2 linked regions of the Homo sapiens genome follow. The protein of the gene in region 2 interacts with the protein of the main gene of each other region in a biochemical or structural test. Each region holds a gene or a part of one and is shown on either strand. Other genes may lie near its edges. The genes, in order: CD93 and MMRN2.

The links.
Region 1: the proteins of MMRN2 (region 2) and CD93 form a complex in vitro, tested with the Homo sapiens proteins (one study listed by BioGRID).

The regions. Positions count from the first base shown.
Region 1 is NC_000020.11:23,083,101-23,090,941, forward strand, and holds the start of CD93 (complement component C1q receptor precursor), read right to left. Parts: upstream 3,225-7,841; 5' UTR 3,093-3,224; coding exon 1,159-3,092; intron 875-1,158; coding exon 850-874; 3' UTR 1-849. UniProt on the Homo sapiens protein: Cell surface receptor that plays a role in various physiological processes including inflammation, phagocytosis, and cell adhesion.
Region 2 is NC_000010.11:86,935,000-86,940,878, forward strand, and holds the end of MMRN2 (multimerin-2 precursor), read right to left. Parts: intron 2,127-5,879; coding exon 1,744-2,126; 3' UTR 541-1,743; downstream 1-540. UniProt on the Homo sapiens protein: Extracellular matrix protein that plays significant roles in the vascular system and is required for the maintenance and stability of blood vessel.

The sequences.
Region 1 (7,841 bases), on a different chromosome or scaffold from region 2:
GTTAGTGTTGATCACATCCGTAGTCAAGTGTGTGGTAACCTCAGTACATTTGGATGAATTAATTCAAGTATCTGTGAACAAATCCCTGGCCTCTCTCGCCCTAGCCCCGTAGATTATGTGACTTCACAAACACCTGTAATGCACTTCAAGCAACTTTTCTCATATTTTTCAAGCTTCCTTTGCAAATAAACCCAAGGCTATTAGAAATGTAAGAACTAAAGAGGCACTTCCTGCCTCCTTGCCACCTAAGAGGTTAATTGCACTTCTGGCCATTCTGGAGGATGTCAACAGTATCACATTTAGCAAGACTTGTGCTGGCGAAATGGAGGAATGCAAATGTAAAGAAATGTTTCCAGTCCGAACATGTTCCCTTTGACCAAAAAACCAGATCTTCTTACCTAATTGAATAATTAATTGATTTAGTTTTCATCCTAGGAAGAGAAACAAATCATTTCAATCCTAATCAGCATGAGCAACTCACCTTTTCCTCTTAGATGGTGGAAGTGAGCAGAGAAGATATTCAGGGGAGCCCCTTAGCCCCGGCCTCCTCACACCCTGATCCGGAATTGGTCACATTGGAATTTGAAAAGGGAGGGGGAGTAACAATCATTATAGAGTCACGAAATCCCCACCGTGGCACGCCAACACACAGCTTCCACTTCAGGAACATCAAACACCCGTAGAAAATACCTGCATGTTCCAAGGGGCCTTTAAGGAGGAGACTTACAATTGTTTGCTAAGATTCCAGTCCAGTCTTTCAAAAAAATGTGGGTGCCCCTTTGGAATGGGGAGTTCAAAGCTCTGAGGATGGTGGCTGGTGACTCTAGTGTCTCTAGGGCCACCTCACTTTCAGCAGTCTGTCCCAGGTGTCGGACTATGGGAAACAAAACAGACAGCGTTGGAAGCCATGGCGCCTCTGTGCCTGCACGTCCCCACCTTGGGAGAGAGCCCCACGTGCGGCCGTGCTGCAGATGGGCAGTATGCTCTAAGGGGGCCCGAGTGCCTGGCGTGGGGGGAGGTTGAGGGGTCAGCTGCAAGGACCAGGGTGTGTCTGCCCACAGGAAACCTGGGCCTGCTCTTGCTGCCACCTCTTTGTACTGTAGTCAGTGCCCCCATGCCTGCCCATCCCCTCCCCCGGTCACTCAGGGCCCCCTTTACCTGTACTGGTTCTCCATGGCCCTGCTCTCAGCTCGCTCTGGAACCCAGGAGTAACTGTCTGCCGCATTCTGGGGCTTCTTCTCCTTCTTCTCCTCCCTCTTCGCTCTCCGCTTGCGATAGACCAGTAGCCCCAGAGCCAGGGCCAGCAGGAGTAGGATGGCCACCACGGTGCCTAGGATGTAGAATAAAAGCAGCTTTTGCCCGTCAGTGCCATCGTTGTTTTGTGTGGCCACGGAGGAGTCCCCACCTGCAGGCTCCTGGGGGCCAGAGGCAGCTGTGGCGTGATGGATGCTGGGCTCCCTCCAGACGCCTGGGGACCCACTGGGGGCCAGCATCTTGAGTGGGGCAGATGTGATGGGGGCGTCAGATGACAGCGAAGGTCTACTTGTGGTGGGTGTAGCCTTGGGGGTGCCCTCGGGGCCCCTTGTGGGACTGGCTGTTGCAGCACGGGGCACGGTGCTCCCTTCTTTCTCTCCTTTGTCCTCCTCATCGGGGGGCCCAGATGGTGGTCCCAGAGACACAGGCCCCATGGTGCAAGAGACCCCATTTGGGGCCAGCACCCAGCCTGGCAGGCAGCCACAGTGGAAGGACCCTTGTGTGTTGAAGCACAAGCTGTCGCAGAGGGGGCCCCCCGGGCCCACACACTCATCCACGTCCTGGCACTGAGTCCCGTCCTCCCCGGCCAGGACGTAGCCCTCCTCACAGGAGCAGTGAAATGAGCCATCTGTGTTGGTGCAGCCCTGGGCGCAAGGCGAGCGACCCAGAGCACACTCATCCACATCCTGACAGGCCCCCTCTCCAGGACCGCCCGGCTCATAGCCAACCCAGCATTCGCAGCGGAAGCCCCCAGGGGTGTTGACACACTCCTGGGCACAGGGGGAGTCCTGGCATTCATCCACGTCCACACAGTCCAGCTGACTCGAGTCCAGCTGGTACCCTTGGGGGCAGCGGCACGTGTAGTTTTTCCCATGGGGTCCCAGGACGCACGTGGCCCCCCCACGACATGGGCTGGAGCTGCAAGGGTTTCGAGAGGCACAGGTCACCAGGTCATCCAGCAGCCGGAATCCTGGTCGGCAGCCGCAGAGGAAGGAGCCATCCCCCCCTTCAAAGCAGTCCTGGTGGCAGCCCCCATTGTTGAAGTTGCAGCCATACTTGGGGCTGACACAGAGGGGGCCCGAGCTGCCCCAGTCGAACACATCGGGGGCCTTCTCCTTGCACAGGAAATAATGACTCTGAGTCTCGTCCTTGTCACCTTCCCCACAGGCTACATTGGCCGCAGAGGCAAAGGGCACAGCCTCCAAGGAGGAACTGGTGGTCTGGAAGGGGGTGGTGTAGGTCACCTGACCTGGGCCCCCCAGGGCCAGAGGCCGGCACATGCCTTTGAAGCTGAACTTGCACACGAAGCCCTCAATGTTACTTCCGGGGGAGCCTGGGCTCCCACAGGGGCCCTCAGACCACTTGGGGAGGCGGCTGGGAAGGAGCGGCTGGGACAGGTCCAGCAGCAGAGACACACAGCGCTTGGAGATGCACGAGTTCCGGAGCTCCTTGTGCCAGTTAGAGTAAGGCGTGTCCTCCCCCCCGCCCACCCAGCTGAAGCCCTTCAGCGGCAGACTAGGGTCCAGGCACTTGCCCTTCTCTCGCTGGAGCCCAATCCAGAACTTGCTCATCCTCGCCGTCAGGGCTGCCTCCCGCCTCAGGAGCTGGGCCAGTACTCGCTGGACGTGCTGGGCCTCCTCCTTGCTCTTCACAGTGGCCAGGTTGCCCCCGTTCTGGTTGCAGTGGTTCTGGGCCTCGGCAGCGCTCAGCTTGCCCGAGTGGGCCGTGTAGCAGGCGGTCCCCACGCAGACCACCGCCTCCGTGTCAGCTCCCGTCCCCGCCCCGGGCTGGGTCAGGAGCAGCAGCAGCAGCAGCAGCAGGCCCATGGAGGTGGCCATCCCGGTCTCTGTGTGGCCCTCTGCGGGAGGCGAGAAGCCCAGCGGCGACAGGAGCTTCTATCTCGGCTCCCAGCTGGGCCCCAAGGGGAGCTGAGGGGTGAGCTGCAGCCACTCCGGCGCAGAGAAGGACACAAAGGCTGAGGGCTTTCCACGTCCCCCTGACCCAAGGCGCATCCTGTACTGTTGTACTTCTTATTTCTCACCGGATGTTGGGGCTTCCTGCAATGAATAGTTCTCTGACTCCTGCTGCCTTCATCACGGTGCTGTTGTTCATAAAAGGAGTCAGGCAGCTCTGCCGGGTCCCTGGCTCAGCACTGTGGAAACAGCGACGGGGGGAAGACGTTACAGCCCCGAGATACTGCCGGCTTGATTTTGGCTCCATTCTCTTTCTCATGGCATGAGGAGCCTCGGAGGCATGCCATGGAGTGAGCAGGGGCTTTGGGGGCTAGGAACTCGAGGAAGCTCCCTTAGTAACCCATAATAAAATTCCACTTTGGTTTGCAAACCACCAAAAGAGAAAAAAAAAATTCTGAGACTTAAGACACAAGGCCATGGATGGTTATAATTTTCAGCCTTTTTTAGAAGCAAACTGGACTTTCCTTTTGCCTAGCTCATGTTCTCTGTTGACTTTGGGAGCCTTTTTTCTTTTATCCTCCCATCGTGAACCTTAAATAGACAGGCATTTTTTAAATAGGATACGGGTCGTGGGAATGTCTGGGTTTTCAACATAATGCCAAGCTCCTCGATAATGTTAATCCAAATTGGGTGAAATTTGGCAGTTCTGGGGGTTTCATAGTGGAAATATTGCATTGTGAGGTGTCAGGGTCACAAAAAGCATCAGAAAGAAAATGAAAATGTGTCCGGCCTCGTGGCGCAGGGCTTGCAGGCTCACTTCCCCCGGCTCAGGATTCCTAGCAAGGGCCGGAAATCTGGGCAGGGAGCGGGAATCGAAGCCCGGGCAGGCCCTCCCGCGACACCGCGACTCGGCAAAAGCCAGGGACTCACAGTGTGCTTTTCCTGCAGCCACAGACCTTTGCTCATTGGTTGGGATCCCCCAGGAGGGGACCCTGAGACAGGATTTGGGGAGACTAGTTTATGTGGGAGGGGAAGTGAAACAGACAAGGAGGAAGCCAACCCATGATGACTTGCTGAGAAGGTGACCCTGGGCTGCTGGAGCCAGTGCCAGGAAACTCTGGGGGCCTGAGGGGACCACACCTCAGCACCATCTCAGCTGAGGGAGAGGCTCCACTGCTCTCCAAGTCCCCTGTCATTGGTAGCAGGCTGTATCTCTCACTTTGAGAGACTGACTATAAATTCTAGCCCTGCCCAGTGACCAGGGGTCTCTCTCACATAAAACTTGTTTCTATGGACAGACACCCTTGTGGCTCTCGTCTGACCCATGTCCAGTTTATTCCTATCAAGACAGCCACTTCCTAAGAGATCCCTGATGGGAGGAGAGTTGGGTTGGGGTGTGGGTCAGGGGAGATGCAGGAGGCAGCACAAGAAGACACAGGAAGCAACACAAGCACCGTGTCACTTACAGATCCCAGGGAGAGGGCAGTGCACCCCACGGGGCCAGCAAAAAGTGGGGAGCTGTCTGGGTCACAAACACTCACCTGGAGGGGGGTGAAGGGAGAGAGAGAGACCTGGGTCCTAAGCCTTTATTGGGGTCCAGGACGTTTCCCAAGCAGGTTTCCCAAGGGGACTTCTCACTGGTGGGTTTAGAGCAAACAGACACGGGCTCCGTGGGGTCCCTGTGGCTGAGAGGTGGGCATGGCGGCATGTCTGGGAAGTCCCTGTGGGGTGTGGAGTCACTGAGACCATCAAATGGGCTGTATCTGCCTGTCCCACAGGGAAATGGTCACCAGGAGGTGGGTGTACAAGGCAGATATCTGGGTTGGCCGCATTGAGGAACTGGGAGGGGGTGGAGCCCTAGACACCGTGTCAAGAGCAATAAACCCTGCTTCTGGTAGGAGAGGGTCCAAATTAGATTCAAAATGGATGCAATGCACAATTATAAGAATTCTCTACACAGCGGCAACTCTTTGGTGCTCTGCACTGACCGTGAGGGCCCCAGGGGAAGAAGCGCCACGGTGGAGAACACAGTGAACGCCTGTGGACCCGGCACCAGCGACCACCACAGTGGCCTCCATGGAGATGTTGAGTTGTCCCGGGGGCTAGGAGCTCGCTGGCTCCCCAAGGGACAAGGAGGCATCTCTGACTCCAGCTGGATACCTCCTAAGAATGTGCCTTAAGTCCTTGCATTTTAGCAAAGATATTTGAGACATTTTGGGAACTCTCCATAGAAGCCACCAGACCCTCCCTGTGCCCCTTCATTCATCCATCTGTTTGTCCATCCACCCATCTAACAATTGTTGATTAAGACCCTGCTATGCACTGAGTGAGGCACTGGATTCCAGGAGGGGATCCCTGCCTCTGTGATCCTGGAGTCCTGTTAGAGTGGACAACTTTGAACAAGTCACGGCACTGATGGCTTTATTGCAGGCAGCACAGGGGAGCGGGGAGGTCGTGGTTGATACAGGGGTGGCATCCTGACTGGGGGATGGGCAATTAGGAGAGACTCCTCTGGAGAAGACAGGCAGTCAAGCCGGAATCTAAAGGAGAAGCAGCTCAGATGTGGAATGGTGTCGGGATGGGGGAACAGCATGTACAGAAGCCCTGGGGACAGAGAGTGAGTGAAGGGCAGGGAGACCAAAGCCCAGGCAGTGGGAGGGAGGATGCAGGGGAAGATGGAGCCCTGTGAACCCCAGTAATGAAGGCTTGAGGCTTCGTCTTGAAATCCACGGGGAAACACTGAGGGCTGGCATGAGGCCTACATGTGGAAGGGGACTGGTCAGTGGACCCAAGCAGTGGGTGGGGGGGCCCTCAGCAGGTGGCCGCAGGTTTCCAGGCTGTGGAGTCCAGGTCAGATGTTCTCGGGGCTGGGTGGAGGTGGGGGGAAGGGCACCGGGCACGCAGAAGGACTGCATGGCTCCTGCCGGGAGCTGGGGTCCTGGAAGGCTGTGTCCGCTGGAGGTACCTGGTTCTGAGAACACAGGGGATTGCCTCTTGGGGCTCAGGGTCTCCCAGACCCCCTGTCCTTGTGACCTGCCTCCTCGGGACGCTAAGTGTGCCACCAGAGCTGGGTAAGCAGCCAGCTGTGAGGGGTCCAGGGAAGGCTGGTGTCCCTGGCTCCCAGTCAATATAGCTGGCCATGCATTTGAGTTTGGCAAGGGTCAGTCTTGTTCTCTGCTTGGGAGAAGCTTCATTTCTAAGGGTTTATTTACAAGCAGGTAACTTCTTAACATTCTGTAAAATCAATTCTGCAGCCCTAGCATCCACTCATAGCAGGGAGCCGTTCTCGTGGTCTAGGCCCCTGTTTGTGCAGCTCGGAGGTAGATTCCTCAGAGGTAGATTGTGATCTGCAGCATTCGCTCAGCATTCTACTTAGTTGGTGCTTAAGGATATGGGCTAAATGAGTGACTTTCAGCATGTTAGCCACTCTGACCCCCAGATCTTTGTCAAGATATCTTCTTTAGCTGTAAGTTATTCATCTTCCATGTGGGAACTTTCAAACCAATTACTGTTCACTTAGCCAAGTGATGACATCTTAAAGAAGAAAATGAACTAGCAAGACATATACTCTGTTTTTTATCCATTAACCTTGGAAGTATTTGTAAAGCACCAACAGTGAGAAAGACTATGTAAAATGCAGAAACTGCCTTGCCCTGGGGGTCCTTGGATTTTACTTTATTATTTTCAGTAACTTGGTTAACTCAGCCCCACTTCTCATCTATAAATGCAGAGGTGGGAACAGGGCCTCTGGAAACTTTCTTGCTCTAACATTAATAAAAGTGAAATCATGCTTAACTCTCCCCTCTGGAATTAGGGAGAAAGCAAGTTGGGAAGAGAGTGGACACTGAGACCATTGCTGAGCCCTCGACATACTGCACATGTAAGCAAACCTCTGTCTAAACTGCACACACCCAATTTCATCCCAAATTGACCCGCTGACTGCCAAGACACAGGGTAGTTTCCTATTCCTTGTCCCCCACATCTGACTTCCACTGTGTCCCTTCACCCTTTGGCTGATCCCTGCTGGGCTCAGGTGGGTTAATTCACCTGGGACACTTACAGCTAGGTTCTCTAGCTCCAGCCCCGCCCTTCTGTGTCCGCTCCCACCTATAGGGGACGCTCCTTAGAGGCTGTTCAGGGGATTCGTAGAGGCTGAGGGCATGGTGCTTCGACCTCAGGGGAGGATGAAGAGCTTGCTTTTCCTGGGAGGGATTTGGTGGAGTTTTACAAAGAATTTAAGATAGTCTGAATGCAAACTTTGAGGGAATTCTGCACCTCACATACTAAATTCCCCATGGATGGTGTTTCATCCCATTTTATTTAGAGAGCAGATTATACCAGACCTCTCCAAGGACCGATACTTAAACAGCAGGAATCAGCAGAAGGAGATGGAAAAAGTTTTTCTCGGCAGATCTTTGGACGGAAGCCACGTTAGGTGTTCTAGAACCATGGCGAGCCTAACAGCATGGCATGTACCCTGAGCAAAAGGCTCCTCACCATTTGTGTGTATTCTGCAGTCTTTATGAGTACTCTGAGCTTTCTTTTTAAATTGCCTTAAAAATTTACTTTGCACGATGCTGGAATGGAATGTTCTGATCTCAAATATGGGGCGAGTTTAATCTCAGTTATTTGGGAGCAGACTAATTGGTTTGTGGATCATTCAGGCATCCGGCC
Region 2 (5,879 bases):
TTGTTAACGCCAACAAGCAACTCACTACGAAGTCCAGTCTGATTTTTTTTTTTTTTTTTTTTTGAGACAGAGTCTCGCTCTGTCTCCCAGGCTGGGGTGCAGTGTCACCATCTCAGCTCACTGCAACCTCCGCCTCCCGGGTTCAACCGATTCTCCTGCCTCAGCAATCTGATTTTCTTATAGAGAAGACTATATTCAACAAATTTTGAGTACTTAATACCAAAAAAAACCTTGTTTCTGATAGCTAGATGACTGTTTTCTCAGGCCAGTTTGCTATAGGATCTGAACTTTTTTGAAAACCATATGCTGGTATATTACAGGAATAATTGCAGCTATGAGCTGTACTGTCTAGTCCAGTATTAGTATCTTTGCCTAGTGTGGAAACTTCCAAGTGTTTTATATAGAATAAACGGAAATCATTCTACATAACAGGGCCTGGAATAATCAGTCACATTTACCCACATAGTTTCACGTTGTCCCATGTTTTTTTTACCTACTCTACCAATTATTTTTGCCCTCCAGAAGTAAATGAGGCAGAGATTTGAAGGGCATCACTTTATTCCAAAGTTGATCATTAGTGAGGGGGATTTTTACAGTCTTCTTTCCCTCCTCCCTCAGCTGCCTCCTGGTTAGAGATGCTAACAAGAATTACGATGGTCCTAAGATACTGGAGGAAGTAAAAAAGTTGAAGGCCCTACATATTTTAGTTCACGTTTGGCATTTCTTGGTCTTTACCCTATGTAAGGCAAGGAGAAAAAGACATGAAATTTAAATTACAGATAAACACAAGTGTATTAGTCCATTTTCACACTGCTATCAAGAATTGCCCAAGACTGGATAATTTATAAAGGAAAGAGGTTTAATTGACTCACTGTTCCACATGGCTGGGGAGGCCTCAGGAAACTTACAATCATGGCAGACAGTGAAGAGGAACCAAGGCATCTTCACAAGGTGGCAGGAAGGAGAATGAACACAGGAGGAACTATCAAACTTATAAAATCATCAGATCTCGTGAGAACTATCACAAGAACAGCATGGGGGAACCGCCCCCAAGATCCAATTACCTCCACCTGATCTCTCCCTTGATGTGGGGATTATAGGGATTACAATTCAAGATGATATTTTAGGTGGGGGCACAGCTAAACCATATCCTACAAGGAATGACTGAAACTAAAGATACTAATTTCCTTTCCCTTGGTTGGCCAGGCTGTCGTCTTCATTACTGACTAATAGAGACCAAGCAGGTTGGTTTAATCCCATTGCCCTCTAGTGCTTTCCAATGTTGGCCAAAATGTTGCCTCCATTTTAAACATTCCTCCTGGGGAAGAATGTCTTTCTATCATACGATAAGGGAGAAGAGAAGAGGAAGCAAGAGAAAAGTTTAAAGTGTTGTACAGAAGTTTCCAACCACAGGAGGAGCAAAACACCAAAGAAGTTGTAGAATACAGGGTGTGGTGAAGAGTTGGAGCCCAGGCCGTGCTGTCTGAGAAGGCATGCCAAGCCAAGGTTCAGGCTTCCTAGGACCATGTCCTGCCCGGAGAAGCATTCCAGTCCTTCTCATCATGGAGAAATGGCCAAGCCCCATGTGGTTACAGGGAAGCCACGTACACCACACCATCTTTGCAGAAGGTTTCCAGGGAAGAGACAGACCAACTGAATGACCTCCAGCCCATCCTTGGCCAGAGCCCCAGGCCGAGGAGAGCTGGGCGAGTCCATGATGTCTGATCAGATTGGGGCTGGGGTTCAGGTCTTAAACATCAGGAAGCCCCCAAATGCAGTGCCCGACAGGCTTCTCTTTGTTATTGATCCCTGGGTTAACTCAAACCATACTCGCTCACCCTTCTGCAGCTCAGCCATGGCAAAGACCGTTGCTGTGCTTCCACTCCCCTGCCCAGTGGTACAGACTGGAGTCCGATGGTGACCTCCAAACACCAGCTGCCCGGTGCCTGGCCCTGGGCCAAATTCAACGCTCACTGCAAACAGGTAGACACCACGCTCAGGGGCTCGGAAGTAGCCATGTTCAGGGAAGTAGCTGCTGCCAATGTTGATGTATGTGGTGTTGAACTTCACTGTCTGCAGGGCAGCCGTCCCTTCTGAAAAGCTGGCATAGAAGGCCACAGGGGATCCTGAAACATAACAGGACAGTGCTTAGTGATTCATCCCTTACACCATTGGGTGGGAAATTAAACCCTGAGACCTACCGTCCTCACCTTATTAGCAATGGAAATAGGTCACTATTTCTAGATAACCTAGATATTCCCAACAGCAGTGTTATTGCAGGAGAAAAGCTAGATGGCCAATTCTGTTTTTCACTAATAGAGAGGAAGGAAAATGCAAGTCTGTTGTCTGAGCTGGTGTACATTTTAACAAAATACTTTCATTTTTTTTTTAGACAGGGACTCACTCTGTCTCCCAGGCTGGAGTGCAGCAGTGGTCATGACTCACTGCAGCCCTTTTTTTTTTTTAACGTAGAGATGGAGTCTTACTATGTTGCCCAGGCTGATCTGGAGCTCCTGGGCTCAAGTGATCCTCCAGCCTCAGCTTCCCAAAATGTTGGGCTTGCAGGTGAGCCACCATGCCCAGCCACAAAGCACTTTCTCGTTTGATCCCTTTTCCTTCCAACTTCCTTGAGAGACAGTATCCCTGATTGACAAAACAGGTTGAATCCTTCACCGGCTGCCCAAGGCTACATGGTTTGTAAATGGCAGGCTGGGACAGGAACACGGGTCTCTGACTCCCAGACGACCACCACTTGCTAGGAATCTTGAGATACTCAGGGGAGAGGGAGAAAATATCCATCCTCAAGGTAATAATAATGCTAACACTGGGAAGGTATCTGCAGAGCCATGAAGGCTGGATCCTCCTGGATGTTGAAGACAGAACCTTGGAGAAAGAAGGAAAGAGCAGGTGGAGCCAGGGAAGAGAAGCCCCTTCAAGCTGGTCTTCTTTTTTTTAGTTGATAAAGGGTCTCTTGTTGCCCAGACTGGAGTGCATTGGCGATCATGGCTCACTGCAGCCTCAACTTCCTGGGCTCAAGCAATCCTCCCACCTCAGCCACCTGAGTAGCTGGGTCTACAGGCATACGCCATCATGCCTGGCTAATTTTTTATTTTTTGTAGAGACAGAGTCTTGCTCTGTTGCCCAGGCTGGTCTCAAACTCCTGAGCTCAAGCGGTCCTCCCACCTCAACCCCGCAAAGTGCTGGGATTACAGGTGTGAGCCACTGTTACTGGCCAAGCTGGTCATCTTACATATGGGTAAATTGAGGCCCAGAAAGAAAAAGCTTATTGCTCCAGACCACACAACTAGTAAATTACCAAGCCTCCTGGGAACAGACCTTGAATCTCTAGACTTCTGGTTCTCTGCAGGGACCACTTTGGCCAGCCTTAGGACAGGAACACTGACAGAACACTGGTGCCAGGCCCATGCACGGGCACAGAAGCAGAGGAAGCTGCCATGTGTGGAGGGTGTACAAACAGCCAGGAAGAAGCCAGTCCTGCTGCCTGGACAGCATGGTTGGGCAGCTGGGGACAGGGTCATGAGATGGCACAGGAAAGGTAAGTCCTACTTGGGTCCTGGCTGTGACACTGGCCTTGGCACCAACGAGGTCATGTCCACCATGGGGTTCCTCAACTTGCTCCCTCTGTAGGGGTTTAAAACAAGGTCCCCATTTCTTAGGTGATAAAACCAAAGCCTTCAGAGGAGCAGTTTGCTGAGCAATTACTGACTTGGGTCCCGGAACTCAAGCCTCAGCTCTTTGACTCCCAATCCAGCAAGCCTTTGTGAATAAAAAAATGTTGCTTTTCTCTAGTTCTGGAAGATTTTCTGAGAATTAGACAGCTGAGAATAGCTTTCTCATTTGTGTTCAGATTGTGTCAAATCAGCCGGGCGCAGTGGCTCACGCCTGTAATCCCAGCACTTTGGGAGGCCAAGGCGGGCGGATCACCTGAAGTCGGGAATTCGAGACCAGCGTGACCAACATGGAGAAATCCCATCTCTACTAAAAATACAAAATTAGCCAGGCGTGGTGGGGCATACCTGTAATCCCAGCTACTTGGGAGGCTGAGGCATGAGAATCGCTTGCACCCGGGAGGCGGAGGTTGCCGTGAGCCGAGATCACGCCGTTGCACTCCAGCCTGGGCAACGAGAGTGAAACTCCGTCAAAAAAAAAAAAAAAAAAAAATGCCGGGCGCAATGGCTCACGCCTGTAATCCCAGCACTTTGGAAGGCCGAGGTGGGCGGATCACGAGGTCAGGAGATAGAGACCAGCCTGGCCAACATGGTGAAATCCCGTCTCTACTAAAACTACAAAAATTAGCTGGGCATGGTGGCAGGCGCCTGTAATCCTAGCTACTCGGGAGGCTGAGGCAGGAGAATCGTTTGAACCCGGAAGGCGGAGGTTGCAGTGAGCCGAGATCGTGCCATTGCACTCCACCCTGAGCGAAAGGGCGAGACTCCGTCTCAAAAAAAAAAAAAAAAAAAAAAAAAAAAAAAAGATTGTGCCCAAGTCAGAGGCCGGCGGCTGCCTCTGCAATTCCCCTAACACCCTGCAGGTGGTTCTCTTGCCTAGCCGAAGGAAGGCCGGCCCGCAGCGCCCTCTACCGGTGCTAGGCCCTCGTTCCGGCCGTTCCGTCCGGGCGCCTGCGCAGGGAGTTCCGCCGCAGAGAGAGACCCCCACCCCAACCCAGCCTTGCGCCTGACAGGCCCTAAGATGCGGGAAGGGCTGTGCAAACTCAGAGTGTGCTTCCCTGCAGGGCACACATTCAAGCCCTACAGCCTTCCTACAAACAAATAAAGGGAAATTTGGGGTGTGTGTGTGTGTGTGTGTGTGTGTGTGTGTTTGTGTGTGTGTGTGTGTGTGTGTGTGTTTGAGACAGAGTCCTACTCTGCCGCCCAGGCTGGAGTGCAATGGAGCTATCTTGGCTCACAGCAACCTCTGCCTCCCAGGTTCAAGCGATTCTCCTGCCTCAGCCTTCCAGGTAGTTGGGATTACAGGTGCCTGCCACCACACCGGGCTAATTTTTTTTTTTTTTTTGACAGTTTCGCTCTTCTTGCCCAGGCTGGAGTGCAGTGGCGCAATCTCGGCTCACTGCAGCCTCTGCCTCCCGGGTTCAAGTGATTCTCCTGTCTCAGCCTCCCGAGTAGCTGGGATTAGGCGCCCGCCACCACACCCGGCTAATTTTGTATTTTTAGTAGAGATGGGGTTTCACCATGTTGGCCAGGCTGGTCTTGAACTCCTGACCTCAAGTGATCCACCCGCCTCGGCCTCCCAAACTGCTGGGATTATAGGCATGAGCCACTGCGCCCGGCCTGGAAATTTGTTTTTAAGAACAACATTTTTTTGAAATAAATATCGTCGTGGTAAACACATTTCCAAACCGTGGGGCAAATTCTGAAAGTCATCAGCATATTGAAGCCTTGCACCACGCACGAGAGGAAACAAGAGAGAAGTGTCAGTGTCGGTGGACACAACCTGAACCCTGAAAATGCTGGGGAAATGGGAAAACGTTGACTGCGTTCCTACATGAGGTAAGCCTCGTGCTAGGTATTTGGTAAACGCAGCAGTCTTCATAACAAAACTTTGACATGGGTAGGGATTCTGCCATTTTACTGAGGAAGAAACAGACAAGTGATGCCAGAGCCTGGGTGCTTCCCACTGCTCCACATTGCCTCTTGGGCCATAGGGAGGGTCAGCTGGGGCAGGGGCTGCCTGGGACGGGACCTTCAACAAGGCCTTGGACTTGCCACACGCCAGGCTGCACATGGCCAAGATGGTGGCCTTGTACTTAGCCCTGTGTCTGGGTGGGGAGAGGCCACAGCTCCAAGGCCAGCCTCTGGCAGAGAGAGTCACTTGAGACACAGAGCCTAGTTGTCCCCCTC